Linked DNA regions of Homo sapiens: region 2 is linked to region 1. The links come from fine-mapping of genetic effects on gene expression. A gene starts in region 1. The other region holds a variant in brackets. All regions are shown on one strand. Distances are between the middles of the regions. Region 1 holds the start of CDC42SE1 (CDC42 small effector 1). Region 2 overlaps GABPB2 (GA binding protein transcription factor subunit beta 2).

Region 1 (8,331 bases):
AACCTAGGTGCTAAAAGAACTTTCCTAGCCAGGTGCAGTGGCTTACGCCTATAATCCCAGCACTTTGGGAGGCCGAGGCAGGCAGATCAGGAGGTGAGGAGTTCAAGACCAGCCCAACCAACATGGTGAAATCCTGTCTCTATTAAAAATACAAAATTAGCCAGGCGAGGTGGCGCATGCCTGTAATCCCAGTTATTTGGGAGGCTGAGGCAGGAAAATTGCTTGAACCTGGGAGGTGGAGGTTGCAGTGAGCCGAGATCTCGCCATTGCACTCCAGCCTGGGCAACAAGAGCGAAACTCCATCTCAAAAAAAGTAATAATAAATAAATAAATAAATAACTTTCCTATGCTGTAACAGGGATCTCTTTTCTCTGATCCCAGTGCTCGAGTATACTGATGATAATGAGAGCAAATGGATTGGAAATCCATTTGGATTTAAAGTAAAGTTCAGATTGGAAGAAGGTATTTTAACAGAATCAGATACTCTTCCATGCGTTAATGGATCTATCACTTTCTCTACTCATTCTACCCAAGCCCTGCCTGATATTTTAGGACTATTAGAGCTGCCTACAGCCTCCACCCTGCTACTTACTAGCCAAGGGTCAAGAAGCATTAGTTGTGGTCGGGCGTGGTGGCTTACGCCTGTAATCCCAGCACTTTGGGAGGCCGAGGCGGGTGGATCACGAGGTCAGGAGATCGAGACCATCCTGGCTAACACGGTGAAACCCCGTCTCTACTAAAAGTACAAATATTAAGCCGGGCGCGGTGGTGGGCGCCTGTAGTCCCAGCTACTTGGGAGGCTGAGGCAGGAGAATGGCGCGAACCTGGGAGGCGGAGCTTGCGGTGAGCTGAGATAGCGCCACTGCACTCCAGCCTGGGCGAAAGAGCAAGACTCCGTCTCAATAATAATAATAATAAATAAATAAAAATTAAAAAAAGAAGCATTAGTTGAAATGTTCCCAAAGGAGCAGAAAGAACATTCTATCACCTCCAAAAACAGAACCCCAAGTTTCAAAAGGCCTTTCTCCAACACACCCTATTGGGTCTCACCAGGCCAGAGACTCCTAAATAATGGCCTTAAATAGGTTCCAAAATGCTCCAGTATAATGTGAAATGACTGTACTAAGGCAGAAAAAGAAAGTGTTAATCTAGAACACAGTGATGTGTGAGAGTGTGGGGGCTTCAGGAATGGTGAGTGGGTAGGCTAGGATGTTTTTAATGTTGAAAGTGAATTCTGAGTTGTTCTTTTTCTTAGTTTAAGTTCCAAAATAAACCCTGGGAACTGAGCATTACTCAGCAGAGAAGCTGCTTAGAAGGAGGGTGATGCCGGGATTGCAGCAGGGTCGGGGAGCATGTTGGAAAGGTGAGGTCATCATCCTATGATACTCAACTCTGATAATCTCCATAGTACTTTGCAGAGACGTGTGCAGAAAGAGAGCTACAAAAAATGGTTGTATCCATTAACCAACCACCCACTGCTTAAATCTGGGACTATAGAGATTCTAAGAAGCATACCTAGGAGTCAATACTGTTATGGACTTGTGGCTACAGGGATTCTTACTGTTACCAGTTATTTTCACAGCTAGCTGGGTTCTTTTCTCTATCCTACCTGACAAGTCTTCTCCAGAATGAGCTTAGTATAATGCAGGCCACATTATAGGCTCTTTAAAAAATAGAATCATGGGGCCAGGCGCGGTGGCACACGCCTGTAATCTCAGCACTTTGGGAGGCCGAGGCAGGTGGATCACAAGGTCAGGAATTCGAGACCAGCCTGGCCAAGATAGTGAAACCCCGTCTTTACTAAAAATACAAAAATTAGCCAGGTGTGGTGGCAGGCGCCTATAATCCCAGCTACTCGGGAGGCTGAGGCAGGAGAATCGCTTGAACTGGGGAGGTGGAGGTTGCAGTGAGCCAAGATTGCACCACTGCACTCCAGCCTGGGCAACAGAGCGAGACTCCATCTTAAAAAAAAAAAAAAAATAGAATCATGGGGGGAAAAAATCATAGAATTTTAAAACTAGAAGACATCTTAGAAATTAATGACTTGGGAAGACTTCCAGCCAGTTTGTATAGAATCCAGATCTCATAATTCCCAATCTGATCCCTTTTTGTGTTGTACATGGATAGTTGCCAACAGCTTTATATAACCCTATACCAGTATTCCCAAAACTTAAAAGAATTTTTAGTTGCTGAAGAATAGATTTTCCGTGGTTTAGGTGATTGTTCCTGTAATTGTGATCTGAATGGGGAAAAGCAAAGGGCAGTAGAGCAAGCTAGAATCTGAGAAAAAAAAAAAAGCTCTTCGACAAACTGACTCCTTTTCTTACAACCAGAGTATGTATAAAAAACTGCTCAAACAGTCCCTGAGTGTTTGGTAGAGCTATCTTGCAATTTAAAAAGCTAAAGCAAATTTTATGAAATATTAACTCAAAAGGCCTAAAATCTCTATGTCATTGACCCAGAGACATGTACACAGGGTACCAAATACATTCAAGAAAGACATGCATGCAAACATACGTGGCATTAAAATCAAGTCAAGAACATAAAGTAATACTACACAGAAAATTGAAGTTAAAATGCTATTCACTAATGTAAGTAGTAATGACATTTTTGATTTAATATAGTATGGATTTAATTATCAAATACTCCAAATTTCGCAAAAGATCCTTTTTTGGCTAGCTTCCCCTTCCCCTCCACAAATGCTCTCCAGCCCTACTTCATCTATCTTTACATCTTTCATTATCTTAAATGGTATCATTTACTTAAAGGGTTTTGACAGTGCCTTGTACCACAATATATGTTCAATAAATGCTTCCCACTATCCTTCACTTTAAATTATCCGGGTATTTTAGGCAAAGGCAATATCTAATTATCACTCTGTTCTTAGAGATACATGATTAGCAAATGTATAGATTAGAAAGATACACTCTCGGAGCCACACAGACACGCCCAAATATCCTTTGTCCAGACCCTTTGTGGGCATCCAAGGCCTACTCAACAGGGCCTTGCTGTGTCATGCTGCCACCATGGGGAAGGGGGAAGGACAAGGTGGTGGTGGTGGTAGAGGGGAGCAGAACCTCTCTGACATCTCATAATGTGTGCCTCAGTCAGAGCTTGGATTTTCCTACTAGCATTCCTCCACCAATTCCACTGAGCTGCAAATCATTCTTTTCCAGAATCTGTCCCCATACCTAGCTCCTGTGGGCTATACTGATTTCACTATGGAATCAGGCAGTTCTCCAACACAGAGGCCCCCACCTTTCCTACCCTAGGCTGCCTCTTTCTTTGGAGCAAAGATTCGAGGTGGAATGAAAGAGATTATCCAAAGAAAGGTCAGGATTACACCCAACATTATCCCATATAACCCCCTCCCAAACTCCCTCCTACAGAGAAACATAGAACACTACAGAAAAAAATTGCAAGTATAGGGAAGTAGAGGACAGAGAGATACAGTAGGACTAAAAATTAAACAGCTGGTAAAACAAATTATGGTTTGAAAAGGAAGATAAGTAGACTGAAGATATTAAATACACAGGACAATAAATTACAGAAAAGGATACTTGAAATGAGGTAGGTGCTGAGAAATAACTACAAGTAAATTGTTAGAGATTAATGGTCTGTATAAGGTAACAAGGCATGGATGCTGTGAAGAAATAACTACCCATTGTTCATAGCGCCCCCTTCTCTCCTCTTCAGCTGTCCCCCACCTCATGTGGGGTCTTTCAATCTAACCATAAGCAGCCGCTCTTCTATCTTTGCAGCCCCCTGCCCCCTCCCTCAGTTTGGTTTACCTGTTATCAATCAATTACTGGCGTGTTCCAAAGATGGAGGGAGTGCCTCGGGAGCTCCGGGGTCTGCGCCGGGCTGGAGAAATACAAAGCTGTTGGGGCTTTGACGGCTTTGTCTTCTCACTCCTTTTCCCTCTTCAGTGACTGAGTCTGTCAGTTCACTCTCCCCCTGCAATGCAGCCCCTCCTAAGAAGGGCGGAAGGATTCCCCGCCCCCTCCTGCCTGACTCGGCTAATTCAAATGATAGGTTCCAGAACACTTGAGGGAAGGAGAGACGATGAAAGCATCTCCCTAGGCTCATTGGTCTGCGCTATTATTCCCGATCTCTTCCAGCACCCCCGTGCTGACTGGGGGCCCAATGAATGAGCAGTTAATTGCCCTCTAATTTTAGGTCCTCTAATTTATGGATTTGAAATCTTAACTCTAGACTACAATGGAAAGGAGGAGTATTCCTTTCTTCCACAATTTAAGGACTTTAGGTTACAAAGTATTTTTAAGAATCAGAGTATTTTTCCACCCCTTCTCCCAATCCCTGCTCCTCCAGACTCGCCTCTCTACCCTCACAATGGGTAAATAAACCTAGTCCTATTCCATTTTGGGTAGAGCACAATAAATTTGGGGTGGGGGGCGTGCTTCTGCGAATCTCTGAACTTGGTTAGGTCTGGGGGTTTGGGGGGCTCCGCTTCGTTTTGCCCCGAAATGCCTGGCGAGTAAAGGGAACGTGAGATTCCGGGGGCCCCAGCTTGGGTGCCAGGGCCTCATCTAGGTGTCCGCATTCTCCAGTTCTCCCCGCAGGGGCGGCGGCCTTGAGGGGCTGCAGAGGCACCCTCCCACGTCCCGCGCAGTGCAGTGCCTCCGCAGTCCAGAGGGGAGCAGTGCGCCGGGCTCCGAGCCGGACGGGTTTCGTAATCGCGTCGCCGCCGCTTCCGCCCTCAGCCGGCCCCACCTCTGCCGGCTCGTACTCGGCTCCCCCACCTCGCCGCAGAGCTAGCCCGGGAAGCCCACACTGGCGGCCACGGAGCAGAGTCCCTCACCCCCACCAGCTGTAGCTGAACGTCTGGATGGTGGAGAAGAGCAGGTGAGGCCGTGCAGTTGGTCCCCTGGCCCGCCTGCCGCGCCGGCCGGGCCAGGCGGAGACACACCGGATGCGGGGTGTGGGGGAGGCGGGTGTCCTGGGCTGCAGAGATGCTGGGGTGGTGGGAAAGGGGTGCGCGCCCGGGGTGGCCGTAGTCATCCACGCTCCTGGGGTGCGCAGGCTGAGGCCGCTGAAGAGTAGAAGGAAAAGAAGGAACTGGAATGTTGGGGGAGGTGGGAGGGAGAGGGTCCGAAAGATTCCCAGAGAGGTCCCAGTCCGGTTAAGGGTTGAGAACAGCAGAGAACTTCTAGGTAGAGTTGTGTAGTGGGGGGAGACAGATACGGAATCTGTGTGATTGAATATATTTGGGGAGGGGAGGCTTAGGGCCTAGCCCTCTTTCCTCTTAAGCCCCCAGAAGACCTTTCCTGGGGAAGGGAAGGTTGGTGTTGGGCCTGTCACTTGGCTGAAATATGGAGTCCACACCGCTTCTCCAGAGTCCCTCAGCAGCCCTCCATGTCTCGGGGTCTCCACACAGGGACCAGCTGCTGCCCCGGGCTTCTAGCCAGAATTGCCCATGCCATTCTCTCGATTCTTTCTTTCTCTCCAGCTGCTTCATGTGAGGGCTTGTCAGGCCGCGGGTTGGAGGCCTTAGGGCCAGAGGCGGTGGGACCGGGAGAACCGGTTTGGGGCCCGAACAGGACCAGAGAACTAGCCTGTACATCCTTCCTCCCTGGCACCTCTTTCCCATCCCTTCTGCTCACCTCCCAACAGCTCTGAGACCCTCAAGTCCTAGTATGATCTTGGTGGGGGCGGGGGGTGGCTTTCCCGGTTCCATATTTCACTCTTGCCATTTGGAACTCAGAGAGGTCGAGTTCTGAGCACCACTTGGCTCTCAGGACGTGGCCTTATGAGGTCTAATCCTCATCCCTCCTGTTGTTTTCTCAGCCCCTTCCCTATTCACTGTGGGGTTGGATTCGGGTGGCTCTTCCGCCTGGGCTGACCAGCTCAGGACTTCATTTTTCCTCAACCCACTCTCTTCTGGCTGCTTTAAAGAAGAGTGGCCGCCAGTGGCTCTTACTTCCTTTTCTGGCTTTGTTCCCATCCCCCACTGCCCTGCGCTACCATCACATTCACCCTGACCTGTCTTCTTCACACTCTGACCCCACCCTCAAGTTTCAGAGACCCTAATGTCCTAGGGAATGGAATTTCCTGGTCACTTCTCGTCATCATTGGTCATTTCATGCCAAGTCCCACACACACGCTTTCCCTCCACCCAGCTCTGGTCAGGTCCCTGGAAAAGAAACAGAAATGGCCTTGTTCTCTCCACTGCCCCTTTCCCTCTCTCCTTCTCCTCCCCCTCTCTTCTCTTCCCTCCCAGCACTATCCACCTCTGTCCCTCAGCTTTGAGCAGAGTGGGGGATGTTGAGGGAGAGTCCAGTCACAGTACAGCCTGCCTGCTGGTGTTGGGGGTTTCCTCTAATTCTTCATTTTTCCCCAACCCTTACCACCTGCCACCACCACCATCAGGACAAACCCTATGACTGACTCACTGACGTCCCACTGACCACAGCTCCCCTCTCTGGACAGCGTGTTTTAGCTTCCGCTCCTTCTGGTTACTCCTCCCTTCCAGTGGTGAGAAGAGAAGAGAAAGCCCAGCCTCCTGGGTTCTCCCCTCCCCTAGAAGCTACATTTGAGTGTTTGTGTGATCTCATCTCAAGGCTGTTAAAAAAAAAAAAAACCTCTGTGTGTGTGTGTGTGTGTGTGTGTGTGTGTGTGTGTGTGTGTTTTGTATTTGAGACAGGGTCTTGTCCTGTCACCCAGGCTGGAGTGCAGGGGTGCAAACATGGCTCACTGTAGCCGCAACTCTTGGGCTCAAGTGATCCTCCTGCCTCAGCCTCCCCAGTAGCTGGGATGACAGGCACATGCTACCACACCCTGCTATCTCGTTTTTTTGTGTGTGTTTTTTTTGAGGCGGAGTTTCGCTCTTGTTGCCCAGGCTGGAGTGCAGTGGCGATCTCGGCTCACTGCAATCTCCGGTTCAAGCGATTCTCCTGCCTCAGCCTCCCAAGTAGCTGGGATTACAGGCATCCGCCACCACGCCCAGCTAATCTTTTGTATTTTTAGCAGAGATGGGGTTTCACCATGTTGGCCAGGCTGGTCTGGAACTCCTGACCTCAGGTGATCCGCCCACCTTGGCCTCCCAAAGTGCTGGGATTACAGGCGTGAGCCACCACGCCCGGCCTATCTCTTGTTTTTAAATCAGTCTAGGGTGCCAAAGCATCAGGGTTCCCGGCCTGCAAGAAAGGGAGATTCCTGTTCATGTTAAAGTGTCATATTTATGAAACTGCCCTTTTTGGAATCTTTGAGGTTGTCTGTACTATAGGACTGGGGAAATGCAAGTGAGTCTAAGAAGAAACCCAGATGTGTCCTACCCTGGCTGGCAGTAGTGAGAAGGGAGGAAGTTCTTCCTTGGACACTAGTACTATTGGAAAGTTCCTTATGTCTGGTTCACTGATGAAGCTTGAGGATAGAATTGGTGAGGAGGGAGGGGAGAACAGGTCACAGCTGGAGGGGAGCCTGGGCCCTATAGGGTGTGAGGCAGAGCAGAGTGGCAGATAGGACATGTGGACGGTGGGGAAAATATTCCTCATGGGACAGAAGATACCTGGCACATGTACCCACAACCTGTACACAGATGATCTGTACTGGACACACGTGGAGATATGGCCATGCCACGCATGTGCAAACAGAGGTGTACACACAGGAGTGCAGTGATACAGGACACAGATAAACAGAATGTACACAGCCTTCAGGAAGGATCTCAAGGTCAGGTAATAAAGGAACTGCTGCTGACTGGCTTCTGGGAGGGATTGGATTTCACTGGAGGGAAATCAGGAGGAATAGGGCAGCAAACAGAGAGGGAAGAAATTCCTTATTGTAGAAAGTCTTTCCTGAGGGCCAACCTGCCAGTTAGTCTCCTAGGACCTCAGTGGTCCAGGGCTCTCCTGTTCTTAAAGAAACTCTAGGCGTTCAGGGCAAGGTAAGAAAAAAGGCAGGGACAGGGTGGAGACCTTGTTTGTGAGAACAAAAAACCACTATTTCCTCTTCAGAGTCACTTAAATGCCCCTCCCCTTCTGCCCTAAACTCAGAGAGAAGGGAGCTGGAGCTTGTATCACCCCAAACTTTGCTAATTTCTGCCACTATCCTTTGGTCCTCGCCCATCCTCTTAACTCTAAGTGCTTCTAGCCCCCTTCCTCTCCCTTGGTACCACCAGCCACTGCTCCTTAACCCCTTGGTGTCCTTTTGGTTCTGTTCCTTTTTTTTAGAGTCAAACTGAGGTTCATAGTGTTTGGGAATGAGTGTTGGTGTACAGGTCTAGGGCCTCTCAGGGAGGACTGGGAAGATATAGGCTCATCAGGAGGTTTCTCAAGGATTGGGGGAGGGGGAGATTTCTCACTGATCTTTCTT
Region 2 (8,331 bases), 49 kb before region 1:
AAGGTGGGCGGATCACCTGAGGTCAGGAGTTCGAGACCAGCTTGGCCAACATGGCAAAACCCTGTCTCTACCAAAAATACAAAAAATTAGGTGGGCATGGTGGCATGTGCCTGTAATCCCAGCAATAGATTTCTCTGTATTATTTCTTAGAACTGTACTGAATCTTTAATGATCTAAAAATAAAAAGTTAAAAATTATATTTACGTTTTAGGATATATTATGATTATTTTAAAACAGAAGATTTGGCCAGACACGGTAGCTCATGCCTGTAATCACAGCATTTTTTTTTTTTTTTTTTTTGCAGTTGGAGTCTCCCTCTGTTGCCCAGGTTGGAGTGCAGTGGCACGATCTCTGCTCACTGCAAGCTCCGCCTCCGGGGTTCACCCCATTCTCCTGACTCAGCCTCCGGAGTAGCAGGGACTACAGGTGCACGCCACCAGGCCTGGCTAATTTTTTTGTATTTTTAGTAGAGACAGGGTTTCACCGCGTTAGCCAGGATGGTCTCGATCTCCTGACCTCATGATCTGTCCACCTCGGCCTCCCAAAGTGCTGGGATTACAGGTGTGAGCCACCGCACCCGGCCAATCACAGCATTTTGGGAGGCCAAAGTGGGAGGAAAGCTTGAGTCTAGGAGTCTGAGACCAGCCTGGGAAGCTTAGCAAGACCTCATTTCTATTAAAAAAAAAAATTGAGGGGCTAGGCGCAGTAGCTCATGCTTATAATCCCAACACTTTAGGGGCTGAGGTGGGCACATCACTAGGTCAAGAGATCAAGACCATCCTGGCCAACATGGTGAAACCCTGTCTCTACTAAAATACAAAAAAAAAAAAAATTAGCCAGGCGTGGTGGTGCACACCTGTAGTCCCAGCTACTCAGGAGGCTGAGGCAGGGGAATCACTTGAACCTGGGAGGCAGAGATTGCAGTGAGCCGAGACCATGCCACTGCACTCTAGCCTGGTGATAGAACGAGACTCTGTCTCAAAAAGAAAAAAAAAATTCGGGAGCTCCTTCCTTTTACCTCGTTGCACTCTTGAGAGCAAGATGGGTTACCAGCAGCTCTACTGGAGCCACCCACAAAAATTTGGCCAGGGTTCTTGCTCTTGTCATGTCTGCTCAAACCAGCATAGTCGGCCAGGTGCGGTGGCTCACACCTGTAATGCCAGTGCTTTGGGAGGCCGAGGCCGGCAGATCATGAGGTCAGGAGTTCAAGACCCGCCTGACCAACATGGTGAAACCCTGTCTCTACTAAAAATACAAAAAATTAGCCGGGCATGGTGGGAAACGCCTATAATTCTAGCTACTCAGGAGGCTGAGGCAGGAGAATCGCTTGAATCCGGGAGGCAGAGGTTGCAGTGAGCTGAGACCACACCATTGCACTCCAGCCTGGGCGACAGAGTGAGACTCTATCTCAAAAAACAAAAACAAAAACAACAACAAAAAGAAAAAATCAGCACAGTCTGATCCGGAAATATGGCCTCAATATATACCGTCAGCCTTTCCATCAGTACATGAAGGATATAGGTTTTTTTTTTTTTTTTTTTTTTTTGAGATGGAGTCTCGCTCTGTCGCCCAGGCTGGAGTGCAGTGGCGTGATTTCGGCTCACTGCAACCTCCACCTCCCGGGTTCATGCCATTCTCCTGCCTCAGCCTCCCGAGTAGCTGGGACTACGGGCGCCCACCACCACGCCCAGCTAATTTTTGGTATTTTTAGTAGAGTCAGGGTTTCACCATGTTAGCCAGGATGGTCTCGATCTCCTGACCTCGTGATCCGCCCGCCTCGGCCTCCCAAAGTGCTGGGATTACAGGTGTGAGCCACTGCGCCCAGCCACAGGATATAGGTTTCATTAAATTGGACTAAGTGATCTCTCTTGAATGGATTATCCAAGGCATGCACCCAATTAAAAACCATGTTAGCTCTTCATATATGAAAATTAAAGGCCGGGCACAGTGGCTCATGCCTGTAATCCCAGCACTTTGGGAGGCCGAGGCAGGTGGGTCACAAGGTCAGGAGTTCGAGACCATGGTGAAATCCTGTCTCTACTAAAAATACAAAAATTAGGCCGGGCGCGGTGGCTCACACCTGTAATCCCAGCACTTTGGGAGGCCGAGGCGGGTGGATCACGAGGTCAGGAGATCGAGACCACAGTGAAACCCCATCTCTACTAAAAATACAAAAAAAATTAGCCGGGCGTGGTGGCAGGCGCCTGTAGTCCCAGCTACTCAGGAGGCTGAGGCAGGAGAATGGCGTCAACCCGGGAGGTGGAGCTTGCGGTGAGCCGAGATCACGCCACTGCACTCCAGCCTGGGTGACAGAGCGAGACTCTGTCTCAAAAAAAAAGAAAAAAAAGAAAAAAAAAATTAGTGGGGGGCGGTGGTGGGCGCCTTGTAATCCCAGCTACTCAGGAGGCTGAGGTTGGAGAATTGCTTGAACCCAGGAGGTGGAGGTTGCAGTGAGCCGAGATTGCGCCACTGCACTCTAGCCTGGGTGACAGAGCAAGACTCCGTCTCAAAAAAAAAAAAAGAAAAAAAAAATTTCGGGAGCTGTAGCAGGAGGATCACTTGGGTCCTGAATATCAAGACTGCCGTAAGTCATGATCGTGCCACTGCACTCCAGGCTGGGGCCACCACATCTGGCTAATATTTGTATTTTTTCAGTAGACATGGGGTTTCACCGTGTTGGCAAGCTGGTCTTGAAATCCCGACCTCAAGCGCTCCTCCCGCCTCAGCCTCCCAAAGTGCTGGGATTACAGGTGTGAGCTACCATGTCTGGACAAAAATTTAAAAACAAAAACAAAAAAACAGAAGATTTACATAATCATTGGGTTTGGCAGATTTAAAAATTGGTTTGTATTTCTTTATAAACTCATCAACTGATGTCAGTGGAAAGCAGCTTAGATATATGTTGAGTAGAAATGGAAGTTTAGTCTGGGATTTAAATTTTTCTGCAGATAACTCATGAAATCTGTTTTCCTTCTTTGGGCCTTAAACATATTTGTAAAAAGTAGTATAGGCTGAGCACAGTGGCTCATGCCTGTAATCCTAGAACTTTAGGAAGCCAAGGTAGAAGGACTGCTTGAGCCCAGGAGTTTGAGGCCAGGCTGGGTAACATAGGAAGACCTTGTCTCTACGAAAAAGTAAAAAATTAGCTGGGTGTGGTGGCTTGCACCTGTGGTCCTAGCTACTTGGGACTTGAGGTGGGAGGACTGCTTGAGCCTAGGAGGTTGAGGTTGCAGGGAGCTGAGATTGCACCTCTAAATAAATAAATACATAAATTTAAAAAATAAAAATAAAAAAGTAGTATAGTTTATTTAGGTAAAACCTCAATTCTATTCTTTTTCTCCAAAACAACTCAGTTTTCATTTATTTATTTCCATTATAAGCAGAGTCTCTCACCTACCCAATGAGCCCTAAAAACTTAAAATGATAACTATGTTCACAAAAATATCAGCAATGCATAAATTAGAATTTATGATACCAAAGTTTGGATTATAATAAGTTTAATTCTTATCTTCCCATACTTTCTGATCCATCAGTTGAAATAATTAAAAAATTATAAATCCCAACACGGGCAACATAGTAAGACCCAGTCTGTACAAAAAATAAAAAAAGACCAGGGGTCGTGACTCACACCTGTAATCCCAGCACTTTGGGAGGCCAAGGCAGGCAGATCACTTGAGTTCAGGAGCTAGTGACCAGCCTGGCCAACATGGCGAAACCCTGTCTCTGCAAAAAAAAAAAAAAAAAAAAAAAAAAAAAAAAAAAAATTAGCTGGGCATGGTGGCACATGATTGTAATCCCATCTACTCCGGTGGCTGAGGCAGGAGAATCACTTGAACCCGGAAGGCGGAGACTGCAGTGTGCCGAGATCACGCCACTGCACTCCAGCCTGGGTGACAGACTGTGTCCCTGTCTAAAATTAAAAAAATAAAAAAATTAGCCAGGTGTGGTGGTGCATGCCTGTAGTCCCAGCTACTTGGGAGGCTGAGGTGAGAAGGTTGCTTGGGAAGTCGAGGCTGCAGTGCGCCATAATCATGCCACTGCATTCTAGCCTGGGCAACAAAGGGAGATCCTATCTCAAAAACAAAAACAAAACAAACAAAAAAAAACTATAGGCCGGGTGTGGTGGCTCACGCTTGTAATTCCAGCACTTTGGGAGGCCGAGGAGGGTGGATCACGAGGTCAGGAGTTCGAGACCAGGCTGACCAACATAGTGAAACCCCGTCTCTACTAAAAATACAAAAAAATTAGCCGGGCGTGGTGGCACACACCTGTAATCCCAGCTACTCAGGAGGCTGAGGCAGGAGAATCGCTTGAACCCAGGAGGTGGAGGTTGCAGTGAGCCGAGATTGTGCCACTGCACTCCAGCCTGGAGTGACAGAGCAAGATTCTGACTCAAAAAAAAAAATATATATATATATATATATATTTGTGTATATATATATATTTGTGTGTATATATATATATATATA[TAA/A]ATCCCCACAATCATTTAAGCCAAGTCAAAATTTTAGTGACATTAAGAAAGGAAATTATACCAGTACCCTTCGTTTCAACCTCCAATATACATTTTTATTTTTTAGAGACAATGTTTTGCTCTGTTGCCCAGGCTGGAGTGCAGTGGCATGATTATGGTAGCATACTGCGACCTTGAGCTCCTGGGCTCAACTGATCCTCCTGCCAAAACCTCCTGAGTAGTTGGGACTATAAGCACGTGCCATCAACCAGGCTATTTTTTAAAAAAATTGCGTAGAGATGAGGGGGTCTTGCTATGTTGCCCCAGCTGATTTGGAACTCTTGGTCTCAAGCAATCCTCCTGCCTTGGTCTCCCAAAGTGCTAGGATTACAGGATTACATATGTAAGCCATTGTGCCTGGCCAACCTCCAGTATTTTTAAGGCATGGAGTTGTAATGATGGGCTTCCTCTTTTCAAAAAATTTTAACTATGTCTTTTTTGAATAACTGATACATTAAATGATTAAAAACATCAAGACTATAAAAGCATATACATTGAAAAGCCTCCCACTCATCCTTAGTACCCAATTGCCCTCCCTGGAAGCAACTAATGTAATGCCTCAGTATACTAATGTATAGCCTCAGTCTGAATATAGCTGGGCATGGTGGCGTGGAACTGTAGCCCCAGCTTCTCAGGTGGCTGAGGCGGGAGGATAGCTTGAGCCCAGGAGGTCGAGGCTGCAGTGACCCATGATTGCACCACCGCACACAAGCCTGGGTGACAGAACAAGACCCAGTTACACACACAAAAAAGAAAAAAGAACTGTTTAACCAAAAGGTACACAACATCACTGGGTGTGATGACTCATACCTATAATCCCAGCACTCTGGGAGGCTTAGGCGGGAGGATCACTTGAGGTCTGGAGTTCAAGACCAGCCTGGCTAACATGGTAAAACCCTGTCTCTACTAAAAATACACAAAAATTAACTGGGCGTGTTGGTGTGCGCCTATAGTCCCAGCTACTCAGGAGGCTGAGGCACAAGAATTACTTGAACCAGGGAGCTGGAGGTTGCAGTGAGCCAAGATCCTGCCACTGCGCTCCAGCCTGGGCAACAAAGAGGAACTCCATCTCAAACAAACAAGCAAACAAAAAAACCCAAAGGTACATCTTTATGTACATCTTTAATACCTACAGATATTACCAATATCCTTTTTAGAGGATCCATTAATGTGCACTCTCACAAGTGATTTATAAGAGTGCTTGTTTCCCTATACCTTTAACAACATAGTGTTATAATGGTATGTCAGTACAGTATTTGCACTTCTCGTTATGAATGAAGTAGGTCGAAAATATTTTCTTTTTCTTTCTTTCCTTTTTTTTTTTAAAGACAGAGTCTCACTCTGTCATCCAGGCTGGTGTGCAGTAGCACAATCACGGCTCAGTACAGCCTCAACCTCCTGGGCTCAAGTGATCCTCCACTTCAGCCTCCTGAGTAGCTGGGACTATAGGCGTGCGCCACCATGCCTGGCTAATTTTTGTATTTTTAGTAGAGATGGGGTTTTGCTATTTTGGCCAGGCTGGTCTTGAACTCCTGCTCTCAAGTGATCCTCCTGCGTCAGCCTCCCAAAGTGCTGGGATTACAGCCGTGAGCCGCCTCACCCAGCTATTTTCATATTTTTAAGAGCCATCAGGGCCGGGCGCGGTGAACCCGGGTGCGTGAACCCAGGAGGCGGAGCCTGCAGTGAGCTGAGATTGCACCACTGCACTCCAGCCTGGGTGAGAGAGTGAGAATCCCTTCTGAAGAAAAAAAAAAAAAAAGAGCCATCAGTACATTTTTTTTCTGTGAACTATTGGTTCATATTATTTGTTATTTTTTCCACCAGATCAACTGGTTTTTACTACAGATTTTATACATATTAGGCAATTAGCTTTTGCCAGTCTGGTTCCGTTTCTTTTTCTTTTTCAGAGCTTCTTTGCCCCAACTTGCATCTGGCAATCTCCCACTTCCACTATTTGTCTTAATGCCTCATTTTTAGGTGAGTATGGAGTATCTAAAATATCTTTTAATAAACAATTGTCTACAAGAGATAACTCACCTTGCTGTCCATCTTGCACAGTTACAATAAATGGCTGGCCAATGCCTCCAGTAGGGATTGAAGTTTGGATATTACCCAGAGGGACTCCATCAGTCACTATGGTGATGACCCTCTGGCCTCCACTCCCCATTACTTGCTGGATTGATGAGTCAACGGAATTTCCTTCTATAATTTCCTCTGTATTGGCTAGAGATGACAAAAGCAAATTTAAAATTTCAGCTTTTTAAAAACATAGGAGTATAGCAATTTCAACCTCCTTGAACCTGACAACATTCAGGGAGAGGAACATTTGAAAAAAAAAAGTGAGATTCAACAGTTCGCAAAAGGTTTTGTGAACAATGCTAAGTCAGAGGAGAAAAGAAAACAGAATGCATTAGAACAGTATTTTGTAAAATGTGTTCACTGAGGTATTAATAACTTTCACTAAAGATGGATTCTATGTATAAATACGTTTTCAAAATTCTGGTTTAAACATGCTTAAACTTTTTTGTTTTGTAGGAGTATCAGAGACTTCAATAGGCTAATAAACATTGTGATTTTCCAACAGGGTGTGATTCTCCAACAGAGTATAAGATACTCTGTTTCGGCTGGGCACAGTGGCTCACGCCTGTAATCTCAGCACTTTGGGAGGCCAAGATGGGCGAATCACTTGAGGCCAGGAGTTAGAGACCAGCCTGGCCAACATGGCAAAACACTGTCTCTACTAAAAGTACAAAAATTAGTCAGGCATGGTGGCACGTGCCTGTAGTTCCAGCTACTTTGGAGGCTGAGGCACGAGAATCGCTTGAGCCTGGGAGGCAGAGGTTGCAGTGAGTCGAGATGGAGCCACTGCACTCCAGCCTGAGCGACAGAGCGAGACTCTGTCTCAAAAAACAAACAAAAAAACCAGATATGCTGTTTCCCCAACATATTTGATATTGGAACCCTTTTTTTTTCAGAAAGTATCTTGAAAGTCTAAAATGGCTGGGCACGGTGGCTCACGCCTGTAATCCCAGCACTTTGGGAGGCCGAGGTGGGCAGATCACCTGAGGTCAGGGGTTCGAGACCAGCCTGGCCAACATGGTGAAACCCCATCTCTACTAAAAATACAAAAATTAGCTGGGCGTGTTGGTGGGCGCCTGTAATCCCAGCTACTTGGAAGGCTGAGGCAGGGGAATTGCTTGAACCTGGGAGGCGGAGGTTGCAGTGAGCAAAGATCACGCCATTGCACTCCAGCCTGGGTGACAAGAGCGAGATTCCATCTCAAAAAAAAAAAAAATCTAAAATAACCATAAATTACAGTAGATCATTTCTATAAGAAAACAGGGATATTTAATAGTGAATTCACAGAATAATATGTGAAGTAGTCAAAATATTGAAGTTTGATAGACAAAAATGTTAGATGGCTTTTTTCCTCTGATAAATCAAGAATAATAGCTGGCTGGGTATGGTGGCTCACGCCCATAATCCCAGCACTTTGGGAGGCCACGGCAGGAGGACTGCTTGAGGCTGGGAGTTGAAGACCAGACTGAGCAGTGAGACCATCCCCCCAAATTTGAAAAATTAATTGAGCGTGGTGGCATGCACCTTTAGTCCTAGCTACTCAGGAGGCTGATGTGGGAGGATCACTTGAGCCCAGAAGTTGAAGCTGCAGTGAGCTCTGATTGTGCCACTGCACTCCAGCCTGGGTGACAGAATAACAGAATAAGATCCTGTCTGTATCAAAAGAAACCCCAAACATATATATATATACATATATGTTTATATTAAATGTATATCAAATATATATACATTTGTATATATAT

Evidence for each region. PIP is the estimated chance that this variant, and not a neighbour inherited with it, causes the effect.
Region 2: its variant is fine-mapped to the expression of CDC42SE1 in CD4 T cells (CEDAR, PIP 0.95).

What each region holds. Positions count from the first base shown.
Region 1 is chr1:151,056,014-151,064,344 of GRCh38, reverse strand. It overlaps CDC42SE1 (CDC42 small effector 1), which reads left to right and starts at 4,723. Exons shown (of 5, transcript NM_020239.4): 1 at 4,723-4,866. It overlaps MLLT11 (MLLT11 transcription factor 7 cofactor), which reads right to left and starts at 3,948. Exons shown (of 2, transcript NM_006818.4): 1 at 3,792-3,948. RefSeq lists an enhancer at 3,811-4,402 and silencers at 6,266-6,315, 6,326-6,385.
Region 2 is chr1:151,105,439-151,113,769 of GRCh38, reverse strand. GABPB2 (GA binding protein transcription factor subunit beta 2) reads right to left here. Exons shown (of 9, transcript NM_144618.3): 7 at 6,548-6,733. It also overlaps the pseudogene RPS29P29. Among named protein-coding and RNA genes, the nearest start is that of SEMA6C, 37 kb to the left of the region's middle. The variant TAA/A (reference allele first, on the strand shown) is at 4,470.